Regions from separate parts of the Homo sapiens genome. Here all the other regions are linked to region 3. Evidence: fine-mapped expression QTL. A gene starts in region 3. Each other region holds a variant in brackets. All regions are shown on one strand. Distances are between the middles of the regions.

Region 1 (10,198 bases), 200 kb before region 3:
TAATAACTTAGTTATTAAATAAATCTATTCTTAGAATATGATTTCAAAATGCTGCAGGGAAGGGAAAACAATTTTAAAAGATTCTGTTAACCTTATGTTTTAAAAGAGAAGGCTGATACTAAAGCTTTTTTTGTTATTTTGGAGACGGAATCTCGCTCTGTTGCCCAGGCTGGAGTGCAATGGCGCCATCTTGGCTCACTGCAACCTCTGTCTCCTAGGTTCAAGCGATTCTCCTGCCTCAGCCTCCTGAGTAGCTGAAATTACAGGCGCCTGCCACCATGCTCAGCTAATTTTTGTATTTTTAGTAGAGACAGGGTTTTACCATGTTGGCCAGGCTGGTCTCCAACTCCTGACCTCAGGTGATTCGCCTGCCTCAGCCTCCCAAAGTGCTGGGATTACAGGCTTGAGCCACCGCGCCTGGCCTGATAACAAAAGTTTTACAGAGGGAGTACATGAAGCTGCAGAAGATCTTAGGTCCAGCTCTGGTTATTTCAGTCAAATAACTGGCACATCACTGAGGCAGTCATTTCATCTCTGCTAGTCTCAGCTGATACATCTATAAAACGGGGAATCATGTGTTTTGGGTCAACCTTAGAAGGTTACAGGGCAGCTGTTATGACAGCAGTTCTAATCTTCACAATATACTCTGTTTAAATGTTTTAACGTTTATTTTCAAAACGAATCTTATCTTGCCATGGAATATGGAAAAGCTACATCACTTTCCATGGATAAAAAGTTATAGTAAAATAAATACAAAAGAAAATGAAACCATGTTATTAAATCCTAGCTAGACACAATTGAAGACTAGCTCAATTTGAGAACTGTTAAAGACATAACTAGCATAACATCTTCCTTGATGTTGAAAAAAAAAGATGTCTGGAGTTGAAAGAGAACTGAAAAAGGAATGACTTTCTCATTCTAGGATTCAGTGTTATTTGATGCGGTTTCTTGGTTCCACTAAAATCAAGGGACAAGCAGTGCGAGTCCCACATTTTTGAAAAAGCTTTTGTGAGGAAAGGTATGGATGGAGCAAAAAGTTTGATCACGTTCCAGGAACAGGCTTTCTTGGGCTACTTGGATCTTTTTTTCTATGTGTTATCTGTCTCTTTACCAATCTAACGTGGGCTATGTTGTATGAAAAGGCCAAAAATGTGAGCTGACCTATTTTAAATCTTAGTAACATCTGGGACCTTTAGGAGAAGGAAAGTTTGTGATCCAAAGGAGAGTTCAGCTTGCCAGAAGCTAGTATCCTCATCAAAAAAGGAAAATGGACCTGCTCGTGAGAAGGGCAGTTGCTGTAATATGGAGATGTTCAGAAGATTGCAAATAACTTTGAGGTTGTTTTAGTCTGGGTTAACTTGCAGTCTTTAGTACATTCCAAATATACAAAGATGTTTTATGAGCTTACAACTTATATAAAATGTAAGGCAATATGGAATTGTACCATTAAACTGAGAAATGGTTATCATGAGTGACTGCAGAATGATCCTCACATAGTTGAACCTGATGGGGGAAGATGACTCATCCAAAGGCCAACTTCGGGAACTAGAAGTTCACCTAGGGGTAACCCAGTGGACTCTGGGTTCAGCAAACGTTAATTTCTGAGTTAGCATTTCCCCAAGCATATTTTCAAGAATGTTAGTGCCAAGAGATCTAACAACAACCACCAATTTAAAAATGGTTCTATGACCCTTTTGCTGGAGTCTAGTTACCATACCGTCCTTTTAAAGATTTATAATTCATGTCAGTACAGTAAGAGCTCTGAGAACTCCTGTAATAAAGAATTTGCTTACCTTTGCTTAATCACGTGTTTGTAACACTTGTTGGCCAAATAAACGGTCATTAATAGCCTAGCAAAACTCACATTCAGGGCCATCCTAACTGACTTTTAACAGGGCAGCACCACCAACAGGGCAATTCAGAATCAGAACAAAGAAAAACACATGCTATAAAGACACATGCACACGTATGTTTATTGCAGCACTATTCACAATAGCAAAGACTTGGAACTAACCCAAATGTCCATCAATGATAGACTGGATTAAGAAAATGTGGCACATATACACCATGGAATACTATGCAGCCATAAAAAAGGATGAATTCATGTCCTTTGTAGCAACATGGATGAAGCTGGAAACCATCATTCTGAGCAAACTATCACAAGGACAGAAAACTGAACACCGCATGTTCTCACTGACAGGTGGGAATTGAACAGTGAGAACACTTCGACACAGGGCAGGGAACATCACTCACTGGGACCTGTTGTGGGGTGGGGGGAAGGGGGAGGGGGGAGGGATAGCATTAGGAGAAATACCTAATGTAAATGACGAGTTAATGGGTACAGCACACCAACATGGCACATGTATACATATGTAACAAACCTGCACGTTGTGCACATGTACCCTAGAACTTAAAGTATAATAATAATAATAGACTTTAGAATCCTTGATGTCAACATTGTGGTGTTCCCCATTTCCCTGATTAGACATACCAGGAGTGTCCTAAGGTGCTCAGTCCTGATTATGGTGTGCTTGAAACAGGCCTGAAACAAATGTCATCAAATGTGATCACTTAAGAGAAGTATTTTGCAAGCACCAATGTCCAGCACAAGTAATTGTTACTTCCAGGAGATCTGGTTCTAAATCAAGTTCTGCCATTAATCAACATTATGACCTAAGGCATGATCATCCTCATTTTGAAACTGAGGAAACTGAAACTCTGAGAAATAAAACAAATTATCCAAAGCTAAACCCCAAGCTAGGAGAATCGTACTGCACCCAGGGCCAGGGCTCCCGCTCTCAGCTCAGTGTTCTCTCCACTGCTGTACTCTGCCTCCCCAGCCCTCCTGCCTCTCAGGTTCACACTTGGCATCATCTGACTCTTCTTCAGGTAACCTGGGTGTCTGTGCTCCTTCTGTTCTAAGTCTTAGATTCATTGCTCCTGCTTCCCCTAGGATCTTTATTCCAGTCATTTCCAACCCAGAATGAAATGATCCAGTGTGGTTCTGGCCCTTCTGATTGCTGATGGGCTGAGTCCCAGCCTCAGCTACAGGCCCCTGGTTTGTGTTGGTCTGAATCACCTTAACAACTCTTGAACCATCAATGACTGTGGCCAAACCCTGAGTGCCTCCAAGAGGCTTTAGCTTTTCCCATTAGGATACTTATTCCAGGAGCCTTTATGCTGGGCTAGGAACTTAATGAGTAAAAGACAAATAGTGGTTCCTTCCCACTAAGATTCCATCTCTCAGTGTGGTAAAGGAACAAATGTCCCAGGTGTAGAAAACACCAAACTAACTCCACTTCAAACCATGCTCCATCCTATGCCTAGTGCCATTCCCTGGCTCTCTGTCTGTCTCCACCCCTGACATCCTCGGCCTTCATTCTGGGGGCCATCCATGCTGCCTCTCTCCTAGTCTGTGGTGACTTTGGAGGCTCAGTTGTCTTGAATCTCTGTCTTCCCAAATTCACTGCCTTATCTCTGGCTCATGGCATGCCTCCTGGGAAGGAAGTGGGACTGTTCTTCATAAACTTCCCTCAAAGGCGGACCAAGCAGATTAGGAACAAGTAACTCCATGCTCCCTGAATCCTTCCTCCCTTCCCTACTGCCCCCCAAAAGCCACTGGTAGGTGGGTGTTGGGCAAGAAGCACCATCCTCCTGGGCATATAAATTCTAAGCTCCACCACCTCCTCACCTAATAAAACAGCAGTGAGGATCTCAAGGGACACTGATACTTACTCAGCCCCGACCAAATACCAGGCATTTGCTAATCAACTGCGTTAGGTAGTGTATCTCATTTAATGCCATGAGAATTCTATGAAGGTAGGTATTATGAATTTCTCCATGTTTACAGATGTGGAAAATAAACCTGGAAGAGGCTGAGTAATTTGTCAAATGTCAATACTAAGTGATAGATCCAGGATTTGAAGCCAGACCATTCCCAGTCCTCAACTATCCCACTGTCCCCCTACACAGGCAGCCTCTTCCTTGGAATCATGTGAAAAAACGAACTTCCCAAAGGGTACATTTTGCCATCTGATATGGTTTGGCTCTCTGTCCCCACCCAAATCTTACCTTCAATTGTAATAACTTCCATATATCATGGGAGGGACCTAGTGAAAGTTACCTGAATCATGGGGGTGTGTTTTTCCCCTGCTGTTCTCATGATAGTGAATAAGTCTCATGAGATTTGATGGTTTTATAAAAGGGGAGTTCCCCTGCACATGCTCTCTTGCCTGCCACCATGTAAGACATGCCTCTGCTCCTCCATCACCTTCTGCCATTACTGTGAAGCCTCCATAGCCATGTGGAACAGTGAATCCATTAAACCTCTTTTTCTTTACAAATTACCAGCCTTGGGTATGTCTTTATTAGCAGGGTGAGAATGGACTAATACACCATCTTCAAAAACATTCTACCCTGTGTACACAGAAATGGGTTCACAGAAGACGACAACCTTTTTCCTTTTATGGCTACTCCTCACTTCTAATGCTCTCCATCACAAATATGTTTCAGAGGTTAAGGGAGTGGAGGCTTAGTCACTTGTATGTTGACTATTTTAAACACCAATATCCAGCTCTGAAAATTCTCCCTTAGCAGTTTATTCAGACTATTATTATACAAAGCAAACACTTAGGCAATCTAATTTGTCTAAACATTTATATCCCACCCAATCTTTTTAAAACTTCAGGCTCTGCCAACCACTTTCTAAG[C/G]AACCTTGAAAGGCAGTTCCCATGGCTCATTTTGTGTCACATGAAAATATAAATGTCAGCATTGACAATGGTTTATTAGGTCCCACTGATAACTACAAAGTATAATACTTTGGTATTTTCCCAACATGGGCTCAGTCCTCAGATTTCGGCCCTAAGATCCATTACATTTGTGTTCTCAGAACTCCACTGAGATGCTTGGAACATAAATCTTCCAGCCAGACCCTGCTGCTTGTTGGGGGCCCAGCCTTTCCCAGGTCCAGGGAGCCCCACTCTGGTCAGCTGCTGGAACTGAGGAAGCTTGCCCCAGGTTCAGTTGTATCTAGGCCTTCAGCCACTAAGCCAGGCCTGAAAGCATGATGGGTACCCCTCCCTAGCAGCAATGGGCCTAAGGCCTAGGTTGGTGTGTAGTATATTTAAGGAGCCAAATGACACCTAGAACTCTGTAGAGTGACAATTTTGTATCACTCACCCTAAACAAAGGTAGACTTGTGCTTGGCCTACCAATTCCACAAAAGTGGGCCAGTCACCATCATGCCTTGTGGATAACTTCAAGATTGTAAAATAGGTGACTGAAGATGTCCCACCAGTATCGTCTTAATGTAACCCCTTGGTTGGAGCAGGGGGGTTAAGGTTTGTCAATGTCTACCTGTTTTGAAAAGATGGGTTTAGGTTTAGATGTACTTAATTTGAAGTCAAGCTGAGTTATATAAAGGAGGGGCTGTTTAGCAGAAGTTGGAGATGTGAGAATGAAGACCAGAAGAGAGGACAGGAATGGCAACAGACATAAATGACTGTTTCAGCTGAATCAAGTGGTGTGTAACTTCAGTCATAGCCAAGAGCCTGTTTTGCAAGCAGATTTCCATACAGGCTAACAGGGATAACTTTGAAGTTATCCCCAACTCCTTACTCTGCTCATACCCAGTGAACCCAAAAGTCTTACTAAGATTTCCTCTGTAATTTCTATTTTACCTCTCATTCACCTTGACTTCTAATTTGAAAGTCATCCTACATTCACTTTTGAGGATGAGGCTATATATATAGTCATTTGTTATTAATCAGTAGATTCTACTACTAAGAATATAGAAGGACAATTTTTTTTGTGTTGGTGAAATACAATCTGATATATTTTTATTCCTTGTGCTCCTATTTCCCCAAATCTCTCCACCTCCTGAAACTGAAGCATCTACATCCTCCTTCACAGCAAGGACAGATACAACTTTGAACAAGGGAGTCATTCCTAATCCTTGAAGTTTAAAATAGTGTTTTCTAAATCCCTGGTCTAGAGATTTATCTGCAAACAAAGCCTCCCCGCCGCCACCTCAGTAACAGTAATCAGGCTTTGTTCAAAAGAAAATAAAAATATATTTGTTGGTTTCAAGGAGGCGGAGCCTGGAGGACTGACCACAGAGGACACAGCTGACCTCCTATCCTGGGTGCTTTCCTTCCCATTTGGAATTCTGGGAGAAGACCACCCGCTGTGTGCCCTACATTAACAAGAGGTGGCCATGGTGGAGTAGAGAAGACGGAGTGTCATGCAGGCTTTGAAATATCTCCCTGGTTTCCCACAGCCTAGAGAGAGGTGAACCAGTTCATGCAAGGCTCAGTGTCATAATAAAAGTGTGAAGGGGGTCTGTGGACAATTAAAAGTCCAGGTTTTGGGCAAGAAGGATACAGACTGGCTGAAAGCCAAGGCAGGGATGGTCACCAGTTGCACAGTTAGAGCCAGCCCAGAGCACAGGTGAATGCAGGTATATCAGCCAGAGATGAGGAGAGATGAAGGCAGGCAGCCCAGGCCATGCTGGGAGGACAAAGGGCACCTCTAGGATGCCAACAAGGACCCAGAGGGCAGAGAGTGTTCTAATAGTCCTCCCTGTTACCACTGCCATCAACATATTCCTGATTGCAGAGGTCATCCTGGGGGAGTGGGGGCAGGAGGCAGAGAACCCCAGGTGGAAAATAGCCCTGGAGCTTGAATTAACTATGAGCCTGAATCTTTAGAAAAATTATCCCCAGAAAACTGTTTTAAACTAGATAAGAGAGTGAAAGTATAAGAATACTTGACAGTGTAAGTTTATATTCTACTGTCTTTGAAAATAAGACATACTAAGTTACATTTGTTTAAAATAGAAATATTTTTAAAGTAATGGTTCTCTTTGAGTCTGTTGCAGAAATTTAAAACCTGCTACAAGAGGTGTATTTAGCATCCAAAATATCTAACCTGCACTACAGCACACTGAACCAAGGTGTGGCAATACTTGGATCACAACTTTGTGATACAAATAATAAGATTATGTTGTAGGCATGGTTTCTCTGAGGCTGAAAGCACAAGTACTTTTCTCTTTTAAAAGAATAAAAATGGCCAGGCACAGTGGGTGGCTCATGCCTGTAATCCCAGCCCTTTGGGAGGCCGAGACAGATGGACCATCAGAGGTCAGGAGTTCAAGACCAGCCTGGCCAACATGGTGAAACCCCATCTCCACTAAATATACAATAATTAGCTGCGCGTGGTAGTGTGCACCTGTAATCCCAGCTACCTGGGAGGCTGAGGCAGGAGAATCGCTTGGACCCAGGAGTCAGAGGTTGCAGTGAGCTGAGACCAGCCACTACACTCCAGCCTGGGTGACAGAGTGAGACTCCGCCGCCAATAATTAAAAAAAAGAATAAAAATATAATATTTTCTTATAGTAACTTATCAAAATTAATATTACCAGGCTAAGTTTTGAGATAAGTTCCTTCAGCCTAAATCAAACAAAAGAGAAAAAAAAATCAAGATATAATTCAACCTCTTTCTCAGTAAACTGTAACTATTAAACCTTTAAAAAAGGCTATAATCATATGGCTAAAATGATCTTTTCCAACTCACTGAGAAACACTTCTTAGGATAAACATTCTCAAACCACTGAGAAAAGCCGCAGGACTTTCAGCACATTTGCTTTCAAAGCCCCTCTGGACAGAAGAATTCCTCCAATAAAAGCCTTCCTATGCCTCATCATCCGTATCAGAGCATTGGAACTAATTAACTGAAAAGATGGCTTTAATCTGCTTTTGTTAGTAGGAGCCCATGCTGTGTTTTTTTCTAACTACCTAAGCCCTCATTCTAACAGGAACAATTGATGCCAGTAATGATACCAGCAATGGCATGAAAGCTACGGAGAGCCCCCAGTCGGTACAAACCTGCGGAGATGGAGGGAGACCGCGAGACACAGCTAGGAGGTCCGCTGCTTCTGGGGAGGGGTAAGTATGAAAAAATCAAAAAGTAAAAAATGACATGCTTCTCCTAAGAAACACTTTTACGAAAAGAGTCTCTCCTTCCCTCAAAGCATTATTTTTAAGATTTTGAAATTGTCTATATATTGAAACTAATTTTACATAGGTAAACGTGTGCCATGGTGGTTTGCTGCACCTATCAACCCATCACCTAGGTATTAAGCCCAGCATGCATTAGCTGTGTGTCCTAATGCTCTCCCCCGACCCTCCCTCAGCAAGCTCCAGTGTGTGTTATTCCCCCAAAATAAAAATATCAAAAAATAAAATACAAAAGTACCAGAGCTCCTTGAAGAAATGGCTGATTTGATAACTGGGGCAGGGAATGTCCAACATGAACCTGGAGCATCTTGTAGTGCCAGAGAGTAAGGAAATACTGAACACATGCACACACACACATATGTGAGCACATGCATGTACACACACAGAATGACGGGGTTGTGCCAAAGGGATACCAGGGGCCAACTAAATTCAGTGACTAAGGCTTGAATAACTTGAGCAATAAATAAATAAAGTAGAAGTGAACTGTAGCCCAAAGTATAAAATAAATATCCATGGGTCCATACTGATATCAATAAATAAATGATACTGATATAAATAAACACATAGGAAAAAAACCTTAATTTTATCATACATCTACTCATTCATTCCAATGAACACTCATTAAGTGCCGTTATATGCCAGGCACTGTTCTAGCGAGTGAAGACGTGGCAGTGAACAAGACAGAGGAAGTCCCTGCTCTCGCAGAGCTTTCATTCTAGGGCAATAAGTAAACCAACTCCAAAAGTTTCAGATACTTGAGTGGTGAGGTATGACAGTGAAGGTCTCTTGCAGGGAGGGACAATCAGAAGAGAGGCCTGAATAATGAGGAGGAAGCCATAGGAAGATCTGGGGGTCAGAACATTCCCAGAAGCACAAAGAGCAAGTGCAAAGGTCCTGTGGGGTGGTGGGGAAGTGGGGAGTGGGAGCCCGAGTCGTGCTAGAGTGGAGTGAGAAAAGGCAGAGGAAGGTATGAGGCCAGAGGTAACTGATCATGTGTGGCTTGGCAGGTTATATGATCATGTGTGGCTTGGCAGGTTAGAGGAGTTTTCTAGGGCTGCCGTAATGAAATATCACAGAGTGGGTGGCTTAAATAATAGAAATTTATTTTCTCAGTTCTGGAGGCTGGAAGTCCAAGATCAAGGTGCCTGCAGGACTCGTTTCCTCCGAGGCCTCTCTCCTCAGCTCACAGATGTGCATATGCAGCCCTGGTGTCTCTGTATGTCCTAATCTCCTCTTCTTAAAAGCACAATAGTCAGATTAGGTTAAGACCCACCCTGGCAGCCTCATTTTAACTCAATTACCCTCCCCCCACTCCCCACTCCACCCCCTGCCTCGAGACAGAGTCTTGCTCTGTCACCCAGACTGGAGTGCAGTGGTACGATCTCAGCTTACTGCAACCTCTGCCTCCCGGTTTCCAGCGATTCTCCTGCCTCAGCCTCCCTAGTAGCTGGGATTACAGACGGCCTCAATTACCTCTTTAAAGGTCTTATCTCCAAATACAGTTACAATCTGAGGTACTGGAAGCTAGGACTCAACATGAATTTGAGGGGAGCACTATACAGTCCAGAACAGAGGGCAGGGAAACAAAGAGAACTCTGGATTTTTCCAAAGCACAACAGGAAGGCCACGGAGGGTCTGCAGTAGGACAGTGTCACAAAAGATAACTGCCTTCAGTGCTGTGTGGAGCACGGGCTATGGGGAGGGGTTGGCAGGAGGGAAAGCCAGAGGCCAGGTATGAGGGTGGCTGCAGCTGCCCAGCTGGAGACAATGGGGTACGCACTAGGGTGACAGCATGGAGGTGGAAAGAGGAGGACAGATATAGGTCATGGGAAGAAAAGAAGACAGGACCTGCTAACAGACTGAAGAGGAGTGACGAGAGAAAGGCCGCTCTTCAGGATGACTCCCAAGCATTTGGCTTGAGCAATGGGTAGATGGTGGTGCCATTTACCCAGGTGAAAACAGATTTTATTATATGATACACAAGGATAAAAGGGAAACATGATATCAACATATAATGCTAGGTTTGTCATCTGTAAGTCTAGAAAGAGGACATGTGGAAGCAGAAGGCAAGGATCAGTGCACAGTTAGAAAGTGAAGCAGCAACTGCACCATGAAACCCCGGGATCAGACAAAGAGGGGCAGGGAGCACAGCACTCTTCTAATTAGTTCAAAAAATGCCTTGG
Region 2 (10,198 bases), 150 kb before region 3:
AGGCCTCTGGTTTTTGGAATTTTCAGCCTTTTTGCACTGATTTTTCCTCATCTTTGTGGGTTTATCTACCTTTGTTCTTTGATGTTGGTGACCTTCATATGTGGTTTTTGCGTGGACGTCCTTTTTGTTGATGTTGATGCTATTCCTTTCTGTTTGTTGGTTTTCCTTCTAACAGTCAGGCCCCTCTGCTGCAGGTCTGCTGGAGTTTGTTGGAGGTCCACTCCAGATCCTGTTTGCCTAGGTATCACCAGCAGAGGCTGAAGAACAGCAAAGATTGCTTCCTGTTCCTTCCTCTGGAAGCTTTGTCCCAGAGGGACCCCCACTAGATGCCAGCCGGCGCTCTCCTGTATGAGGTGTCTGTCAACCCCTGCTGAGAGGTGTCTCCCAGTCAGAAGGCACAGGGGTCAGGGACCCACTTGAGGAGGCAGTCTGTCCCTTACCAGAGCTTGAGCGCTGTGATGGGAGATCCGCTGCTCTCTTCAGAGCCAGCAGGCAGGAATGTTTAAGTCTGCTGAAGCTGCGCTCACATCCGCCCCTTCCCCCAGGCGGTCTGTCCCAGGGAGATGGGGATTTTGTCTGTAAGCCCCTGAATGGGGCTGTTACCTTTCCTTCAGAGATGCCCTGCCCAGTGAGGAGGAATCTAGAGAGGCAGTCTGGTTACAGTGACTTTCCCGAGCTGCGGTGGGCTCTGCCGAGTTTGAACTTCCTGGCGGCTTTGTTTACATTGTGAGGGGAAAACTAACTACTCAAGCCTCAGTAATGGCAGATGCCCCTCCCCCCCCACAAAGCTCAAGCGTCTAAGGTCGACTTCAGACTGCTGTGCGCGCAGCGAGAATTTCAAGCCAGTGGATCTTAGCTTCCTGGGCTCCGTGGGGGTGGGACCTGCTGAGCTAGACCACTTGGCTCCCTGGCTTCAGCCCCCTTTCCAGGGGAGTGAACAGTTTTGTCTCACTGGCATTCCAGGCGCCACTGGGGTACGAAAAAAAAACTCCTGCAGCTAGCTTGGTGTCTGCCCAAATGACCACCCAGTTTTGTGCTTGAAACCCAGGGCCCTGGTGGTGTAGGCACCCGAGGGAATCTCCTAGTCTGCAGGTTGCAAAGACCACGGCAAAAGCGTAGTATCTGGGCTAGAGTGCACCATTCCTCAAGGCACAGTCTCTCACGGCTTCCCTTGACTCGGGGAGGGAGTTCCCCAACCCCTTGTGCTTCCTGGGTGATGCAGAGCCCCACCCTGCTTCAGCTCAGCCTCCGTGGGCTGTACCTACTGTCTAACCAGTCCCAGTGTGATAAGCTGGGTACCTCAGTTGGAAATGCAGAAATCACCTGCCTTCTGCATTGATCTTGCTGGGAGCTGCAGACCGGAGCCGTTTCTACTTGACCATCTTGCCAGCCACCACTGTTAGTGTTCCACTAGGAACACTGGTGTCCTTTCCCTGCCTCAGTGAAAGCATGAGTTGAGATACAGCTTCTATCGGCCTGGGTCCCCAGGTAATATTAGTGTTCCTCTTATAAGAACACTAATCCTATCAGATCAGGGCCCTGCCCTTAAGACCTCATTTAATCTTAATTAGTTCCTTAGAGTCCCCATCTTCAAATACGCTGGGGGTTAGGGCTCTAACTTATGAATTTTAGACAGACATAAACATTTAGTCCATAGCATTCATTGTGCTGTGTGTATTAGCAGAACTTTATAAACCACAATAAGCTTTATTAACATAAGAAATGATACATGGGATGATAATGCCTTGGTGCCTCTCCTATACCTGGATCACCTTCTCAGTGTCCTTTAATGGCTGAGACTCTTTCCCCTGCTTCCTTAATGTAACATACTCCAAAGCTCATTTCCTGGTCCTTGTAAAATCCATTTTGTTATTCTACATTTTCTTGAAGGTCTTATCCACTAATCTCACCAAGGTTGATGACTGCAAGTATGGGTCTACAACCCTAAGATATCTCCCTAAACTTCAGAACCTTGCATCCCTAACCTCCTGTTGGGTCCCACCATTCATTCAGACTCAACATATACAAAACCAAAATCATCATTTTGTTTTCACAAAGAGGTTGCCCTCTGGGCTTTGTCCTCAATGATATGCTCATCCCCAAAGCAAACATGGCCTAGTCTTGCCAGGTATCCCCTGGCATGTAAAAGAGAGCTCTGAGAATGGATCTTGTGGGGAGCATTCCAGATCCACTCCCAGTGAAATAGAAACCGCCTCTCATTTCTCTAAGGTCTGCCCCTTCCACTCTGAACATTCACAGGATTATGGATTATCTATGCACAGGGGTGGGCTGCGGGAATGAGAGTGCCTATGAATAAAGCCGCTTCAGTAAAACACGAACACTCTAATTCCAGGTCCACCAGCACTTAGTCACAAGCCTCCCTCCCTCATATCTTACAGTTCTGATAATATTGTCTATGTTTTTATCTGACAGCGCCCCCTGCCCCATCATGCCCCACCATGGCGTCTGTGTTGGGGCAGACTGCTGGATTGGTGGAGGAGTCAGAAGCACGCAAGGGGTAGATCTTGACTGAAGTGGCTCAGGGCTCTGTGGATATCAGACTGTGTGGTGGCACCTTTAATATTCCCTGGAGCAACATCTACTATTCTTGCAAACAACCTAATAAAAGTCACCTGGACTTAACGAGGAAGGCATTCAGGGAATTTCACTGGAGCTTCCTGCCTGCTAGTCACTAGGGCCAGCCACAGATATTCCATTTCTCCTCCTTTGAGCACATAGTGGGAGGGTACCTCCCTTCCCCCTTGGAAGTTAGGTGTGATTTGTGACTTGCTTTGGCCAATGAGATGTGAGCAGAAACAATGTGGATCAATTCTAATTGAAGCTTTAAGAACCTGAGTCTGTATGGCTGGCTATCATTAAGTCAAAAATAACAAGATGCTGGCAAGGTTGTGGAGAAAAAGGAACACTTATACACTGTTGGTGGGAGTGTAAATTAGTTCACCCATTGTGGAAGACACTGTGGCAATTCCTCAAAGACTTAGAGACAGAAATACCATTCAGCCCAGCAATCCCATTTCTGGGTACATACCCAAAGGAATATAAATCATTCTATTATAAAGACACATGCATGCATTATGAACATATGCATGTATGTTCTTTCATTGGCACTATTCACAATAGTAAAGACATGGAATCAACCTAAATGCCCATCAATGATAAACTTGATAAAGAAAATGTCGTATATATATATATATACCATGGAATACTATGCAGCCATAAAAAAGAATGAGATTATGTCCTTTGCAGGGACACGGATGGAGCTGGAGGCCATTATCCCCAGCAAACTAATTCAGGAACAGAAAACCAAATACTGCATATTCTCACTTATAAGTGGGAGCTAAATGAAGAGAACACATGGACACAGACAGGGGAACAACACACACTGGAGCCTATCAGAGGGCAGAGACTGGGAGGAGGGAGAAGGTCAGGAAAAATAACTAATGGATTACTAAGCTGAATAACTGGGTGATGAAATAATCTGTATAACAACCCCCCATGACACGTTTGCCTATGTAATAAACCTGTACATCCTGCACATGTACCGCTGAACTTAAAATAAAAGTTAGAAAAAAAAAAACAAAAACAAAGAATTTGAGCCTAGGTCACTTGTTCCCTTTCCCTGCCTCAGTGAAATCATGAGTTGAGATACAGCTTCTACCAGCCTGGGTCCCCAGGTAAGCAAAATACACCCACCCTTACACGTGGAAGGTGAACAGCAGGCAAGCTTTTGTCATGTTAAGTCATTTGGATCTGGGGGTTATTTGTTACTGTAACATAAGCCAGCCACTGCTGACAGATACAATCACTGTTCATGTCACCAGTTGGCGACCTTCACTTTCTGACTCAGCCTCCCCTCTGGCTTTTCAGTTGCCACTCTTTAGTTCAGCTCTCAGGGACACACAGTGCACTCAAGCTACCCAAACATAAAGCTGCCCCCTAGCAGTTTTAAGGATTAAAACTGATATCTGATGCCCTATAGCCTATAGCAACCCAGCAAAACTCCAGTCTCATGCTGCAGCCCCATTACCCTTGGCATGAAAACAGGTAGAATTTGCTCCAATCTCAGCACCTAAACAAGTGGCTTCCTATGAAACTGCCCATGCTCGGTGTAATGGACATATATATTTATTGTCCAAGACAGAGAGTGAAAGGGGACTGGGACGACAGGCATAAACTATCACTGTCCTGGGTGAACTGGGATGCACGGGCACCCTAATTCCACTTTTGCCATCTTTACAGTAATAGGTCCCAGGCTATGAGAAAAATTCCTGGAGGCATTATCTAAGGATAGGTCACCAAATCCAGGAAATGCAATTAAAGGCTTAAGAAGAACCATCTGGTAAAATTAATGTGTTTATCAGAGAGTATACTCCGCTTTTACTATTCTATGTGGCATTGCACTGAATGAGCGCAGCTGTTTCCCTAAGTAGGCACATGTGAATAGCAGTAGACATCCAAACAAAACCAAGAGCCCGATGCAAAATCCAGCCGTAAAGCCCTGCAGAAGCATTAGCAGTGTCTTCCTCCCGCCGGTCAGCCTGGGAGCCATTTAAGAGGAGGAAGGATAAAATCAAGAAAACAATCTTAGCAGCAAAAAGAATTATTTAAACAAAGCCAAAGTAAACTCAACTTCAGTGACCATAGGCTTCCTCTCTCCTTCTAGGCATGTGAAAAATATCAATGTCAGTGACCATTTTAAAAGACTGCATTATTTTCTAGTAACACATGGTAAAGGATAGCTGATTAATCCACATTAGGATGCTAATTAGTTGATTCAACATCTCAGTGGCTTCCAGTAAAGAAGTATGCACTGATTTTGGTAGAAGAATGTTTTCCTGTCTGTCTCAATCCCCACTTCCCTATCTCCTCTTCATGCGATGTGGGTCCCCTACCATAGGGTTGGTCACATGACCTGAGCTAACCCAAGTACCCCATCCCCCAAACTAGGTTCCAGGGATGGGAACAGGATCCAAACAAGACCATGGTATAGTTTGTCTGGGATTGGAACAGTCACTAGGTATATTAGTTTCCTAGGACTGATGTAATATATCACACAAACTGGTTGGCGTCCTGTTGAACACAAACAAGAGAAATGTATTCTCTCACAGTTCTGGAGGCCAGAAATCCAAAATCAATGTGTTGGTAGGGTCACTCTCCCTCCAAAGTCTCTGGAGGAAGGATCCTTCCACGCATTTTCCTGGTTTCTGGAAGTTGCTGGCAATCCTTGGCGTTCCTAGGCTCATAGCTGCATCACTTTAGTCTCTGCCTCTGCCTTCAC[A/G]TGGGCTGTCTTCCCCCTGTCTGTGTCTTCCCATGGTGCTCTCTGTGTGGGTCCCCAGTCACAATGGATTAGGGCCTATTCTACTCTACTGTGACCTCATCTAAACTTATATCTTAATTAGATCTGCAAAGACCCTCTTTCCAAAGAAGGTTACATCACAGGTACCAGGGGTAGGCTGGAGTGCAATGGTGCCATCTCGGCTCACCGCAACCTCTGCCTCCTGGGTTCAAGTGATTCTCCTGCCTCAGCCTCCTGCGTAGCTGGGATTACAGGCATGTGCCACCAAACCCAGGTAATTTTTTCTATTTTCAGTAGAGATGGGGTTTCACCACGTTGGTCAGGCTGGTCTCGAACTCCCGACCTCAGGTGATCAACCTGCCTCAGCCTCCCAAAGTGCTGGGATTACAGGCGTGAGCCACCGCACCTGGCCTAGGGGTACCTTTAATAAATCTTTTTGGGGGTGCAATTCAGCCCTCAAGACCAGGTGAGAGAGTCCCTCCCAGTATGATTGCAAGCTCAAACCCATGGTAAGCCTTCTCGCCTGCCCGAGACAGAAGTAAACAGAACCTAGAGATGGAGAAAGATGAGAAAGGCAGGGTCCTAATGTTACTGATTCCCTGGAATGCAGCCACATTTGAATCCCAGGCCACCTCTTGCATTTCCCAGTAACATGACCAACAAAATACCTTTCTGATCAAAATGTATTTAGTTTGGGTTTCTGTCACTTACAACCAAGAGTTCCAATTAATATATCCACCAATGAATAATGCTCTGTAATGTGAATTCAAGCAGTTTCCCATAATCTGGGTGGGAGAGAGAGGATGGAAATATTTGTGAAAAAGATTGGTCATGGGCTGATAACTAATGGAATTAAGTGGGTACATAGGAGCTTATCACACTATTATACTATTCTCCCTACTTTTACCTATGTTTGAAATTTTCCAAAAAATCAGTTAAATCAAATGTTCAAAAAATAAGTTCTTCCAGGTCTTAAAGTCTAGCACAAATCAGAGGGGAAAAAAATAACAGAAAAAGTAGACCCATACATAAGCCAGACAACAGCAGGCATTCACATGTAATACATGAAAACATTAGCAAAGTTTTCTTTGTGGTTTGCATAGGGCTATCAATATTAGACCTGCATCTACCAGACCTCAAGGTCTTAGACAACAACAGCTGGCTGATGGCCACCTCAGACCACGCAGAAAAGGTCTGGCAAGGCAGCTTCTGCTCCTGGGGAAATTACAGAACGCACACTGCTCAGTGTAGTGTGGAATTCATCTTTCCCCCCAGGTAATCACAATAAAGCAGCTATTATCCACAGCCAGCCATAAAGCAAGGGTGCAGCTCAGACAAAAGACAGGGTCACTTCTTCTCTAAATGTTCACTGGAAAGCATTGTTGTTCTGACACAAGAATGTATTTCAGGATTTATCAAATACCCATGATTCTGTCCCTCAATGTAGGCTGAGTCATCCCCTCTTAGATGAGAGGTTCTCTACCCTAGCTACCCATAAGAATCACCTGGGATCTTTAAGAAATCCTGATGTTCAGACTGCATCCCAGACCAATTAAATCACAATCGCTGGGGAGGGGTCTAGGCATCAGTGTCTCTAGGAGGCTCCTCAGTGATTCTGAAGAGCAACCAGGGCTGAGAACCACTGTGCTGGACAGACCTACATCTGTGAGCCAGTTGAGGCAGTTGCTCACTTTGGATACATGCCTCACTTCTCTAAGGCATCTGCTACTATCAGCTGGAGCAAACTCACCTCTGGATCTACTCTAGCGAGTAGATCTCAATCAATCCAGAACCTTGTTCCTTCTTCTTTGTATTAGTTTCCTAGAGCTGCATGACAAAATACCATAACCTTGATGACTTCAAACAAGAGAAATTTATTCTCACAGTTCTAGAGGCTGGCAGTCCAAAATCAAGGTGTTGGCAGGACCACGCCCACTTTGAAGGCTCTAGGCAAGGATGCTTCCTTGTCTCTGCCTAGCTCTTGGTGGCTGCCAGCAGTCCTTGTTGTTACCTTGTAGAAGCATCACTCCAATCTCTGTCTTCATCATCACTTGGCATACTCCCTGTATGTCTGTGTCCTTTCTCCTCTTCTTTTTTTTTGTTTTTTGTTTTTTTTTGAGACGGAGTTGCACTCTTGTTGTCCAGGCTGCAGTGCAATGGCGTGATCTCAGCTCACCACAACCTCCGCTTCCCAGGTTCAAGCGATTCTCCTGCCTCAGCCTCCCAAGTAGCTGGGATTACAGGCATGCACCACCACGCCAGGCTGATTTTCTATTTTTTAGCAGAGACGGGGTTCTCCATGTTGGTCAGGCTGGTCTTGAACTCCCGACCTCAGGTGATCCACCTGCCTTGGCCTCCCAACTTTCTCCTCTTATCAGAACACAAGTCATTCCAGATTAAGAGCCCACTCTACTCCAATATGAACTCAACATAACTGATTACATCTGCAATGACTCTATTTCCAAATAAGGTCACATTCTAAGGTTCCAGGAAGAATACCAATTTGGGTGGTGGGTGGGGGCAGTATTTAACCCAGTGCACTCTTCCTCACCCATATTAAGTGAGTATTACACTTTGTCTTCACCAGAATCCATGTAAGACATAGCTAATTGGGAGTACAATGCCTTCAAGACGTTTTATTTTGAAATCATTTTAGATTTACAGGAAAGTTACAAAGATAGTACAAAAGTTCCTGTATACCCTTTCTTTACCCAGCTTCGCATAATGTTAACATGTTACAAAACCATTTACAGGCTGGGTGCGGTGGCTCACGTCTGTAATCCCAGTACTTTGGGAGGCTGAGGCGGGTGGATCACTTGAGATCAGGAGTTCGAGGTCAGCCTGGCCATCATGGCAAAACCCTGCCTCTACTAAAAATACAAAAATTAGCCAGGCGTAGTGTTGCACACCTGTAATCCCAGCTACTCGGGAGGCTAAGGCAGGAGAATCGCTTGAACCTGGGAGGCAGAGGTTGCAGTGAGCTGAGATCACGCCACCGCACTCCAGCCTGGGCAATAGTGCAAGACTCCACCTCAAAAACAAAACAAAAACAAAAAACAAACAATTTATAAAAACTAAGACATTAACGCTGGTACAATACTATTAACTAAACTATACAATTTATGCCTATTTCACTAGGTTTTCCAACAATGCCCTTTTTCTGTTTCAGGATCCAAATCAGGATACCACCTTAAATTTAACATAATGCCCTTAAAAATGAAAAAGGTCAGAACCAAGCTCTATCCACAGAATCAAATCAAAATTTCACTTTGGCATCCTTCTTTTGCTCACCCTTCACCCTGTTCCCCACCCGTTGTATGTGCACTCAGCTAGCTCTATGTTTCCTCTGTACATCCTTCCTGCTTGAATTTGATAGTCTCAATTTTTCAGTCAAGTTAGTTCTTAACAATTTTGAGGTCATGGGACCACTCTGAGAATCTAATAGAAGCTATGGAGTCTCTGAGAACACTGCACAGATAAAAACAATTTAGCATCCAATTTCAGAGCAGTCAGATACTAATCCACTTCCCTCCTCCCCAAGGGCCTCTAAGTATAGAACCACCTTGCACAGTTTGGCTTCCCCAGGCATTGATTCTGCAATAAAATCATCACAACTCACTATCAATCCCTCTTCCAAGGCAATTTCTCCAGATCCTGCACATTGTGCAGTGCTCCATACTCTGGGTCTTGGCCAACCTTAGCTGTCCAGCCACTGCCTCGGGCTGAAGCTGAGAAGGGCTGGCTGGGCAGAGCTCTTCCACTGGGCCCTGAAGGCAGCTGGACTCCCTCTCCAGCCAACTTGGCTGTGAGCATAGAACCCCCACAAATTCTGCTTGACCCAACACCTCTTCTGAGCCCACTTTCTCCAGGGGTGGGTAGAAATATCTCAGAATGTTAAAACTTCTCAGTCCGCAAGCCATGTTATCATCTGGATTTCAACAAAGAAAAGTGACTCCAGCATGCAGAGTGGGATCAACTTGCTCTACCAACTCTGGATCTTCTGTCATCTGGAAATGACGGGGATCTTGTACTCACGGGCAATGCCTGCCTACTATTATCTTTGGAATCAGCATGTGAGGCCCCCTACAGGTGAGAACCATACAACTGTACAACCCCACATGTTCTCTTAAGCTCCCATACTACCCCTTGTAGCAGGAACCAAGGAAAGGGAAACTCCATCTGCACTCACGGCTCACAACTTTATGTTTGAACCTCTTCTCCAACTGATTCCTTGAACCCTGTTCTGTCCCCCTCACCCTGCCATCCTTGGATGTTGCTTGTTTCCATCAGTGCCTCATCCATCTGACTCATGCCGAAGATGGTCCAGGCGTCACCTGAGCTATGCTACCTTTGGTAAAGACCCATGCAGGCTTCTCTTTGCCCTGGAGTCACACTTTCTCCCCTATTGACACCCCAGCCAGGATCACACCAATACCTCCAACATCAATCAGAAGTCAACAAGAATGGAAAACAGACTAAAGTAACTTCTATGGACAGGGCTGGGTCTATTCTTACCTTCTGCAAATGGTTCCCACTCATAAAACCGGCCCATGAATGGCTTGTTGTTGTAGGATGCACACTGTACCTCCCGGATACTTCTACTGCTTTCTGGACATACCTAATAAAGCAGATATTAAATATGCAATTAGTGTCCATACTTTTCATAGCTCCAGGATACATTTCCAAACCCTGGATACCTTTCCAACTTTATTTATTTTTTATTTTTATTCTTTATTTATTTATTTTTTTTTTTTTGAGATGGAGTCTCACCCTTGTCGCCCAGGCTGGAGTGCAGTGGCCCAATCTCGGCTCACTGCAACCTCCACCTCCCAGGTTCAAGTGATTCTCCTGCCTCAGCCTCCCAAGTAGCTGGGATTACAG
Region 3 (10,198 bases):
ATCCTTTTTCATGGGAAATTAATCTTCTTCTCTCTCCTGACTGTGCCTCCAAGAAAAATGGTTAAGTCAAAGCTCGTCATCCTCCCACCCCTGTAGTCACATGGCTGCATCCCCACCATAAATCAAAGCTGATGCCCCCTTTCATCAGATGCCTGCAGATAATTCCCCTGTGATTTCCCTACTGGGGCTCAGAGGGCCAAGGCCTAAAGGGTTAACATCTCATTTCCTCTTGTCTTTCAAGCCTTAATCCCCATCCTGAGCTGGGTGCATTCCAAGCCCACCTGGAGCAGGTCATGACGAGCTCCCAGCCCATGGCTGGCCCTTCATTTCCCCTGGCAGGAGATTAGATGGGGTGCCCATTAATCACTCCGTGCTTTTGTCCTCACTGCTGGCCAGGCCTTAGGCAGCTGGCCAAGGGCCAGGAGGGTGGAGCAGGCCACATGCTGCCCACCCGGTTGTGGGGTGCCCAGTGCCACCCTCCTGGGACAAGACACAGCGGCACTGTGAACCTGGCTCACTGCCCTCGGACCACGCCCTAGAGAAGCAGGGCTAATGGGCGCCAATGCCTGGGATGACACCTCAGTGATCAGCTTCGGAAAGGCTGGTAGGAGAAGACAACATAGGCAGTACACTCAGCTGGGTGACGGGGTAGACAGGAAAAGAGGTCAACAGAAAGAGACCACTTTCCCAAGACAACGCATCAATACACAAAACTGCTGCCTCTTGTTCCATGGGTTCTTCTTTGGGCAATCTAAAGGGAAGCTGGGGAAGGGGAGTGGGGCGAGCAGGGATGTTGGATGGGTAATTCATTATTACTATCACCGCGCAGCTGGGAGTGTTCATTTGCTGGGTTTGAATACACAGTTGTAACATTCAGCCCTGTGCCCTTCAGACACAAAACCCTGGATTTGAGGGGGCCTGAGATTACATATACATTTTTGTTACAGCAATACATTGAGCTCCAATTGTCTCAAGCACTGATCAGGCACAGAGTAAAGAAATGGGGCGAGAACTAACACTGAGCGCCTGCTATGTGCCTTAGGGCTTTGCCTTAAGCTCTGCATACCCATGCACTGGTCCCCCACCAGCCCTCCAGACTTTGGCCATCCTCTTGTTACACATGGGGAAACTGAGGCTGGGTGGGTAGGAAGTGGAGCAAGGCCAGTTGAATGAAAGAGATCTGTCAACGGCCAGATCCCATTCTGGGAAAGGAGGTTCAACTCACCGTGCCTGCAGGGAGGAAGGGGCTGGCTTTGCCTGTCCAGCCCTATTCGGGGGGTCCCAAACCAAGCAACTTGGGGCTCTTGAACAAACCCACCCTGGTCTTTCTCCCTGAGCACTCGCTCAGGTCCCAAAAGAAATTCACAGTGAGTCTGGTGGCAGGTGGGTTTACATGCCTTCGAGTAAGCTGAGGGGGCTGGGCCTTCAGGACTGAACTAAAGACCCCTCGGGCCAAAAGAGAGGACCCTCTTCCTGGCCTTGGCCACAACTCTCCATTGCTCACTCCTTAGAGTCAAAGTCAGGGCCTCTGTCAAAAAGGAACATGCTGCCTGGGATAAAGTGGCGTATTAACCCACCACCTGTCGCTAGAACCACATTGTAAAGGAAGCCCAGGGCAGTGGTCCCCAAACCTGGGTGTGCGGAAGAATCGCCTGAGGTAATCTTAAAAACGCCAGTTCTCGAGCCCTGCTTCCACCCTGGAGCCTGTGTTTTCTTTCACCAGATCTGAATTTTGATTCAGATGTTCCTAAGACAACTGTTTCAGGAAATAATGATATAGTGGAAAGAACACCAGATTTAGAGAGCTGGGTTTAAGATTTCAGCTCCAAACCTGAGCTGCTGACCTCAGGCAAGTAAGCCTCAACTTTCTTCCTGTACAAGGCAGATGCTGATGTCTCCCTTCTAGGTGGCTGGGAGGATTAAAAGAGAAACCACTGAAAGCCCCAAGCATTGCACACACCAGTGCTCACTAAGCATGGCCCCAGTGAGGCTAACAAGCCAGCGAGGCTGTGGGCACAGAAGTAAGTTTTGACAGGAGGAGGAAAAGAGAGCAAAACAGGCCTAGATGATGAAGGGGTGTCCCAGCCTCAGCACAGCGGTCCTGCGGAGGAGGAGTAAAATTGGGGGATCCCAAGAGGGGGCCAGAGGCAGCAAAGCAGCCTAAAGCCAGAGCTTCCCCTGAATCTTCTCCTCACCTGCGTCAGCCTGCATCATGTGTTGGCTTCCAGCATAACATTTTTAATCCATTTTCACAGCGAGGATATTCAACAAATACACATGAAACCTTTATATCTGCGCATAAGTAAACATCACGATTCTGCATACACACGCAAAGAAAAAGATGGGAAAACCAGAAAGAAGAGGAGAGAGAAGAGAAAAGTGAGATGAGGGGTCAAACCCAGGCAAATAGTCATGTGCTTTCAAGTGTGCTGGGGCCACTAACATGAGGACAGTGTGTTCCATGACCTGGAGAGGCCCAAGGAGGCTGCTCGGGGGAAACCTCAGAGTGGCTGGGGAGGCGAGGCTCATCCAGGCTGAACATAGAGCAGGCACAAAGAATGCAGGGAAGAGACACAGGAGTGTGTGCAAGAAAGGCTGGGTGGGATACACTGCCTGGCAAAATTTAGATCAGAAGAGGGGAAATCTGAATTTCTGAGCTGGGGATGGGAGGTGTGGGGAGGGCAGATAAGACCATGATAGAGACTGGGTGAGTGGAGGGATGGCCTTCAAGCAGGAAGGCGTTGGGATGGCTCTTGGATCAATAAAGTAGACTGGGATTAGGAAACATTTTAAATGCCCTGATGAAAAGTAACCTGGATTCAACCGTGTCCATACAGTACTTTCCTATCTTTCAGTCTTTCCTCGAGCTCTTTCCTCTGCTTGGCCTGTCCTCCCTCCCCACCAGCCTTTCCCATCTCCTTGAACTCCTCCTTAGGCTTCAAAGCCCAGTGGTAACTGCCCTAGCTCCTCCCATGCAGAATCAATTTCTCCCTCATTCGCATCTCCTTGATGTTTTGCACATCCCCCTTGTATTGCGGTTATTTCTTTACTTCCCTTTCTCCCCTGGGTGGTTATTTATCATCTGCTAGCCTGTGGACTCCCTGAAGGCAATGATATTGTCTTGTTCATAGCGTAAGCTCCAGCACATAGTAACAGTCCCTGGCACATAGTAACAGTCCCTGGCACATAGCAGACGCTCAGAAATATCTGTTGGAGATAAATTAAATAGAAGTGAATACTGGGGAGCCATTGTGATTTCTTGAGAGAAATGATGTGGTGAAATCAGAATTTCAGAAATATTAATCTATCAGCATGAAAGAAGATGGATTAAAATGAAGAAAGCAACTCGTGGCTGGGAGTCAAGAGGGGAGATTATTACTGTAATTTGGACATGGTTGAAGGTGGGGGCAGTGGGAATGGAGACAGGTAAATAATTCCTCAGATATCACAAAAGAATGTGGAAGAGATTTTGCGATGAATGAGCTATAAATGTGGGGGACAGAATGGGAGTGTTGGGAACATTTAAACATTGAGACTCCCAGCAATTAGGATAAAAGTGGTACCATGGAGAGAAATGTGGGGGATGGAGAAGACGGCAATACACAGCCTCTGTGTAGGATAACTGATTGCAATCTCCACAAGTTTTTCGAGGCAAAAACAAAAACAAACTCCAAGTCAAAAATCTCCCCACCCCTGATCTTCCTCCCAAACTCTGGGCTGTATTTTTCTTTCGCTAACAGCCAGTAAGAAATATTTCTTTATGGCATAGGAGACTAAAAAGAAGGTAATGCCAAGCTGGTGCCCCGCCCAGTGCTGGGCACAGAGGAGATCACATGAGTTCCACTGGCCAGCCTCCCCACAAGAAACCAACCCAGTTGCTTATTCAGAAGGGGCTCCAGTATCCTGATCACCCAAACTCATTTCCCAGGCCCAGACCTCTGGGAAATCCCTGCTCCAGCCCTGCAGAGATTTATAGGAAAGTCCCAGGACGCCCATCTGCTTGCTTCCTCACATTAATTTCAGGGCTAGGATTTTGTTTTCTAAAGGAATTCAACTATGATGCCAACAAAAATCTATAGGAATTGAAGAGTTCCGTATTTTAAGTCACATTTTTAAAATGTTTGCTTCTTTGTATATTGAGACCCAGTAAGACCCTAGTAAGCCCAGTTACTCCATCACCTCCAACAATATTAATCAAGTAGAAGACACGCGGATTTTAAAAGCTGTGTGATCCTTGAAAAATCTTCAGACTGTCAGGGGTCCTGGGTGCCTCCAACTGTGAAAGGAGGGTTGGACAAGGCGATTCCTTAGATCTCTCTCGGGTATCTATTTCTCTAATTCCAAATTCCAACAGGCATCCAATGATTGCTACCCACGTCCAAGCTTTAGACTCATAGCCCGAAAAGGGCGAAGCGCAGCGTGGTAGAGATCGCAAAGGAGACAGGAAGAGAAGCAAGCATGCACTTTTAGTAAGACGGCAAAGGAGGCTGGGAGGTACGGTGCTGGGTGCGGACTGCTTAAAAAACTTACTAGACCACAAATTCCAGATACTTAGGTGGGCCCGAGAACGCCCTAAAATCCCCTTCCCAAGTGAGGGCTGATGTTATTTCAAATAAAAAGAAAACTTAACTTCCAGATCTGTAGAGCTCCAAGGTGAGCTCGCTGTGCAAAAGCTACTTCTGTAAGTGCGCCAAGGGGCCGCAGGTACTTAGGCTGCACTTGAGGAAGTGTCCAGAGTTGGCGGAAACAACCCATCCACTCGGGCTCCAGGCGCTCGCTGGGTTGCAGCAACTAAACTGAGACAGACAGACACACAGATCCGAGGCCCCAGGCCAGGACTCAAGGAGCGCTGACCGAGACTTGCCCGGCTCTCGGGCCCCAGGCGGGAGGGAGGCGAGGCTGAGGTGGGGGGCGCACGGGCTGGGTGTGCACTCGCCGGTCCCCTCCGACCCGACCCGGGGAGCACGGGGCCCCGACCCGGGGACGACTGAGGTGGATTGTCCCTAGAGTTTAAGACTGTCCCTAGAGTCGAGGGTGGAGGGATGAGCGCCGGCGCCAGCACAGAGCAAGACTCCCAGCAAGGAAGAGAACCAGAGAAGGAGGCGCAGCCGTCCGCACGGACCAGGCGCGCGCTGGCTCCCCGAGCCCGGAGCGGCGCAGCCCGCGGCGCCCCGGACACACCCACTGGGTAGCCCGCGCCAGCCCGCCCCGCCGGCCAGAGAGCGGGAGCCGGAGCCTGGGCAGCGGAAGCCGGGTCGGGGCCGCGCGGGCGGCGCGCAGGGGACGCGGGGCGCGCGGCTCTGCTCACCTGGCGGTCCGCGTCCCGGAGCGACCGGCGGCCGCCTCGCCTCGCCTCGCCCCCGCGTGGTTCCCGGCGCCGGGCAGCCCCGAGCGCCGCCGCATGGACGGCCGCCACCGCCGCCCAGCCGCCCCGCGCCCGCCCTGCACGGGCTCCCGCTGTGCCCCGATTCCGCGTCGGGCTGCGCGGGCGGCCAGCGGTTCAGGCGCGCGCGGAGAGCTCTGGCTCAGAGTTTGCGATCCGAGAGCGGGATCCGCGCTCCCTCGGTCCTTCCTCCCTCCCCTCTTGCGGCCTCCCGCTGTCATCTGGAGCCGCTCCTGCCGCCCCCTGGCGGCGACCGCGGGAAGGGCCGGCCCCCATCCGCACCCCTGACCCCGGAGGTCAACAACGGGATGGTCCCTGGGTCCCAGGGGAAGAGACATCACCCAGTAGGAGGGAGTACGGTCTAGACAGAGGCCACGAGGGCGGGAGGGGGCGAGAGTGGAGAGTGGCCCAGCTGGCCAGGGTCGTCTAAGTGAGAGGAAAAGGGAGAGGGCGGTTGAGACCAGGCCCTGAATTCCGCGTTCATCTTATCCTGAGGTCTGTGGGGACCTGTTGAAGGACTGGGGCAGGGGACGGACGCGGGCATCCTTCCATTTGGAACAGCCATTCCGGCAGCATCAGGATGGGGCGGAGGCAAAGCGGGGAGTGGGCGAGGCAAGTGGTGCTGTAAACCTGTGCGAGAAGGGGGCGGTGACTCTAAGGGCAGGAAGGAGCCCTGGTCACACACACACTCCCACGCAAGGTAGGACGCGCTGGGCTCCTTCTGAGGCCAAGGGGAAAGGACAAGAGCCCTCCAAATTCCAACGGGGGTTAGACAGCATGGGGAGGAGACACACACACCCTGACGGCCAGAGCCGTTCGGGATTCTTTCTTGTCTTATTCAGAGTAATATTTTGTTGGGGAAAAAAAAGCCTGCTGCAAAAAAATAATAATTCTTCTCATTAGTAATGATAAAAATCAAACTTTGATCCCTTCATTTTACGAATTGGGAAATTATTGCCCCCAAAAGGGCATGACCAAAGTGACGCGTTTAGTTAATGGAGGGAAAATTGCTAGGGCCCCGTTTCTTGAGTCCTAATTCAGAGCCAAATTCTTTACATTCGAGCCAAGGTGTTCAGAGCTGGGAAGGCAGGAAATAGAGTGACTGTGAGGAACTGTCTCTTCTTTCCCCAGAGCAGGGAGGGGGTGACAAATATTTGAAGAGGCTGTCCAGATACAGGCGTTTCCCTAAATTTCAGTCAGCCTGTTTGTTTATCGCTGCCTCTAAAGCTTGCCTGCAGGGGTTGTTTTGAAAGTGCAGGTATACCGAGAGGACAATGAAGGAGGTGGCAGAATGCAAGCTCCCTGCCCCAGAGCCAGGCAGCACCAGGGCTGGGTGCAGAGCGCTTCGTGGGAGCAGAAGGGAGCTCCCAGGGAAGATTGTCCTCCAGAAAAAAAAAAAAATTAACAAAAGGGAAAGAGGCTACTCAAGAGATTAGGCCAAAGAAAGAAACACCATTTTGAGCACCGACTACTGGCCCGGAGCCTGGCAGAGCCAGTTCTGATTGATTCAAGAGCTGGTTCCAATGGGATGAAATAATTCCACACTTGATCAAACAGATTTTGATGGGAGGCACCTGGTGTAAATGGGATTAGATTAATTCTGAGTGTCACGAGTCTCATGGGTCCAAATTAAGTCGATCTAACAGCTCTAGTAAATACTGGCCAGTTTAAACCATTTAGAACTGATTTAAAAAAAAAAACCTGCGCAACTTTAGAATGTACTTAATGTCACTGAATTATACACTTAAAAATGGTTAAAATGGAAATTTTTATGTTATGTACATTTTACCATAATTTTAAAAAAGCAAAACTAATAAGATTTGTTCAAACAAGATTGATTTATTCATTCATTCGAGACAGGTATTCAGTGCCGAGTGTGGCCTTGGTGCTAGGATTCAAAGAGGAAAGGAAGAAAACTTTCCATTCTAAAAGAAACTCCACGTGAGGCGAAGAAGATGAAATATAGTCAGAAAACCATACCAGTAGGTGGTAGGTAAATGCAGAAGTATTTAAGAGCTCATACAGGAGTACCTGCCTCAGGACAGGGAATCTGAGATGCTCTGCAGAGCTGGATCTTAAAGAACGGAGTGAGTTCATCACATAATGTCTGGGGCGAACAGGGCTCAGGAGCAAAGGATGTGGTTTTGTTTGTTATTTTTTAATTTTGAAATAATTTTAGACAAGTTTCACAAATAGTACAAAGAATCCCCTTATATCCCCCACCCTCTTCCTCTAATGTTAACATCCGACATAACCAAAGTATGATTATTAGTGAGCAAACTTGATTCGACAGACCTAGGCTGGCTCCTTAGAAGTGATTCCAGTCCATTTTCAACCTTGGTCAAATTGTTTTGACCATATTTTGCTTATATGTCACAAGAAAGTCTCTTTCTTTAAAGTCAAGATAATACTTGTTTTATTTGTTTATTTATTTTGAGAGAGTGTCTTGCTCTGTCACCCAGGCTGGGGTGCAGTGGCATGATTGCAGCTCACTGCAGGCTCCACCTCCTGGGCTCAAGCAATCCTCTCACTGCGGCCTCCCAGGTAGCTGAGACTACAGGCGTGCGCCACCACATTTGACTAATTTTTTTTTCATTTTTTATTTTTAGTAGAAAGGAGGTATTGCTGTGTTGCCCAGGCTGGTCTCAAACTCCTGAGCTCAAGTGATCCTCCGTTCTTGGCCTCCCAAAGTGCTGAGATTACAGGCGTGAGCCACAGAGACCAGCCTATACTCATTTTAAACAAAGAGATATTTACATTATGTGTAAGCATCAGTGAATATTAAGTATGCTAAGACAGCAAGTTTTAATCTTTCAGTCCTGTTATATTTCTGCTTTTATCCAAATGTGTCTGTCACGTATGAATCAGAAGAGCAGAATGTGGTCCTTGCATATAAAATAGCTTACTGACCCTCACCGAAAGAGAGAGCCAAGAATATGTGCTTCAGATCACAGTCAAAGGCTAGCCTGTGCTTACCTAGGCTGGGGGCCTGCCTGGCATGTCAGTGTCAGCTATACACAGCATCTTGGAGGGTGGGTCACCCCTTTGCATATCTGATGTGGTGAGCTACTCACTACCTCATAAAATAGCCACATTGTTCTTAGAGGCTCTTTGTTAGAAATTCCCTTTTAATTTTGACTTGAAACCTTTTGCCCTGTAATTATTATCCACTGGCCCTAGAGGCAGCTCCTAAAGGGACAGACAAGAAACATAACTCTTCTGTCATGTGTCAGTTCTGTCTATGTAAGACAGCTCTAGCTTACACCTGTTGTCCTATTATAATTATTAATTAATTATTAATAGTACCCCCCTTCATTCTCTTGTCCTAGTTAAGTTGATAAATGATGCATACGACATCCTATAGAAGACTGTCACCACCCCACCTCACTGATCAGCCCTCTGCCTACAGCCACACCCACAGAACATTCAGCCATTTCTCCTGTGGTTCCCAGCCTGCAGCACAGCGTCTGCACGTGGTGAGGGCTCCCAAATCTCTGAGGAATGAATGGCTCACTGCTGAGAGCAACCTTCTGGGAGTTCAGGGCATGTGGAACTGGAATAAGAGCAACGTGTGAACAGATTACAGGAAGGCAATGCAGGACAGCTGGACCCTTTGGGGGGAAACTTATGGGGAACACAGTTTTCTTACTTATAAGCACTGAGATTGCCTGAGAGGGGAGAGATGATGCAGAGTGTCCCAAATGTATTTGACGTGGAATCCTTTTACCAGCGAAACATCTCTTGGGCCTAGAGTTCTGAAAATTGCACTTTGAAAAACACTGCTCTCAGCTCTTACAAACCTCGTGTTTTCATCCTAACTGTGCTTCAGAGAATTGTGTCCCAGCAGGAAAGGAAACCCCCGTATAATTCCCTACGTTGCTAGCATTTGGAAGTGGGATGAAAATGGACCTACATTCAAACCCCTAATTTCAAGCTCTGAAGGAGGTACCAGGATCCATCACGATGCTTGTAAAATTGTTCCTTTCATTTTCCTGGTTGTAAACTTATGCAGACTGTAAAGTCAAGGCAAGCCTGTGCCCAGCAAATAATAAGAAAATAAGGGAGGCATGGTAAACAAAACAAAACACTTTGAGAGTTGGTCAACTTGCTGTTATTTTGAGCTGTTTCTAAAAATCTCAGGGTAGATTCCCTCCCCTGCTTGCCTCCTTAACCCAGTCCTTTTTCTTCCTCCTCCAGGAACTCTGGAATGCTGACCTACAGTCTGAGTTCCTGTGCCCTTGCCTGGGGCTGACTCTCTACTTGACCTGTAACCCACAACTGGGCAAGAGAAAATTCTGCAGCCACAGCTCTGAGGACATGAGCAAAATGGTTTCCAGACGGAATGTCAAGGATTCCCATGAAGTGTCAGGGAGTCTTCAGGCCACACTTCAGGTTATCTCCTTCTCTTTCCCTTTTCTGCTTCACACTTGCTCTCATCCTCTTTCTCACCCCACATCTGGTCAGAGGAGATAGGAAGGTTCTTGTTACCTGGTACAAGACAACTTTTGGAATCCCAGATATTCAGATTATTTCCCCTTTTCCTCTTTGCAAATGATAATACTCACAGCCAAGAGGCATCACCCGGATCCGAGGCTGCTTCTCCTTAGGACATGCAGACAGAAGGAGAAGGCGGGGCTGGCAGCCTCCAGTCCACAGCCTCCCTTTCTTCTTCCGGCGATGATTAACTAGGCCTAGACAATGGAGATCTACGGCATACGCCCAGGGCCTCCTCTTCTCAAGCATGGCTGATCAGTCACTTTCCCGTCTATCCTTCATTTATTGAAGCCAACTATGAACGACTAAAGGAAGGATGAG

Alleles and levels. Alleles are on the strand shown, and positions count from the first base shown. SD is a standard deviation of normalised expression in the study named. Not every link is listed here.
In carriers of allele C in region 1, the expression in gastroesophageal junction of the gene that starts at base 5,536 in region 3 tends to be higher than with G alone (small effect, 0.27 SD a copy in GTEx).

What was found. PIP is the estimated chance that this variant, and not a neighbour inherited with it, causes the effect. A credible set is the group of variants that fine-mapping cannot tell apart.
Region 1: its variant is the best candidate, but not a certain one, in a credible set for the expression of THSD4 in gastroesophageal junction (GTEx, PIP 0.52).
Region 2: its variant is the best candidate, but not a certain one, in a credible set for the expression of THSD4 in testis (GTEx, PIP 0.54).

The regions. Positions count from the first base shown.
Region 1 is chr15:71,311,479-71,321,676 of GRCh38, reverse strand. All of the region lies in intron 6 of THSD4 (thrombospondin type 1 domain containing 4), which reads right to left. Among named protein-coding and RNA genes, the nearest start is that of THSD4-AS1, 130 kb to the right of the region's middle. The variant C/G (reference allele first, on the strand shown) is at 4,710.
Region 2 is chr15:71,256,350-71,266,547 of GRCh38, reverse strand. It overlaps THSD4 (thrombospondin type 1 domain containing 4), which reads right to left. Exons shown (of 18, transcript NM_024817.3): 6 at 9,833-9,935. LOC105370884 (a long non-coding RNA gene) reads left to right here and starts at 3,538. Exons shown (of 3, transcript XR_001751791.2): 1 at 3,538-3,695; 2 at 8,487-8,542; 3 at 9,226-9,311. The variant A/G (reference allele first, on the strand shown) is at 5,300.
Region 3 is chr15:71,110,809-71,121,006 of GRCh38, reverse strand. It overlaps THSD4 (thrombospondin type 1 domain containing 4), which reads right to left and starts at 5,536. Exons shown (of 18, transcript NM_024817.3): 1 at 5,309-5,536. CT62 (cancer/testis associated 62) reads left to right here and starts at 5,503. Exons shown (of 4, transcript NR_168260.1): 1 at 5,503-6,083; 2 at 7,244-7,376; 3 at 8,713-8,859; 4 at 9,581-10,198. RefSeq lists an enhancer at 410-926 and silencers at 5,143-5,232, 5,383-5,522, 5,553-5,612, 5,459-5,636, 5,673-5,722.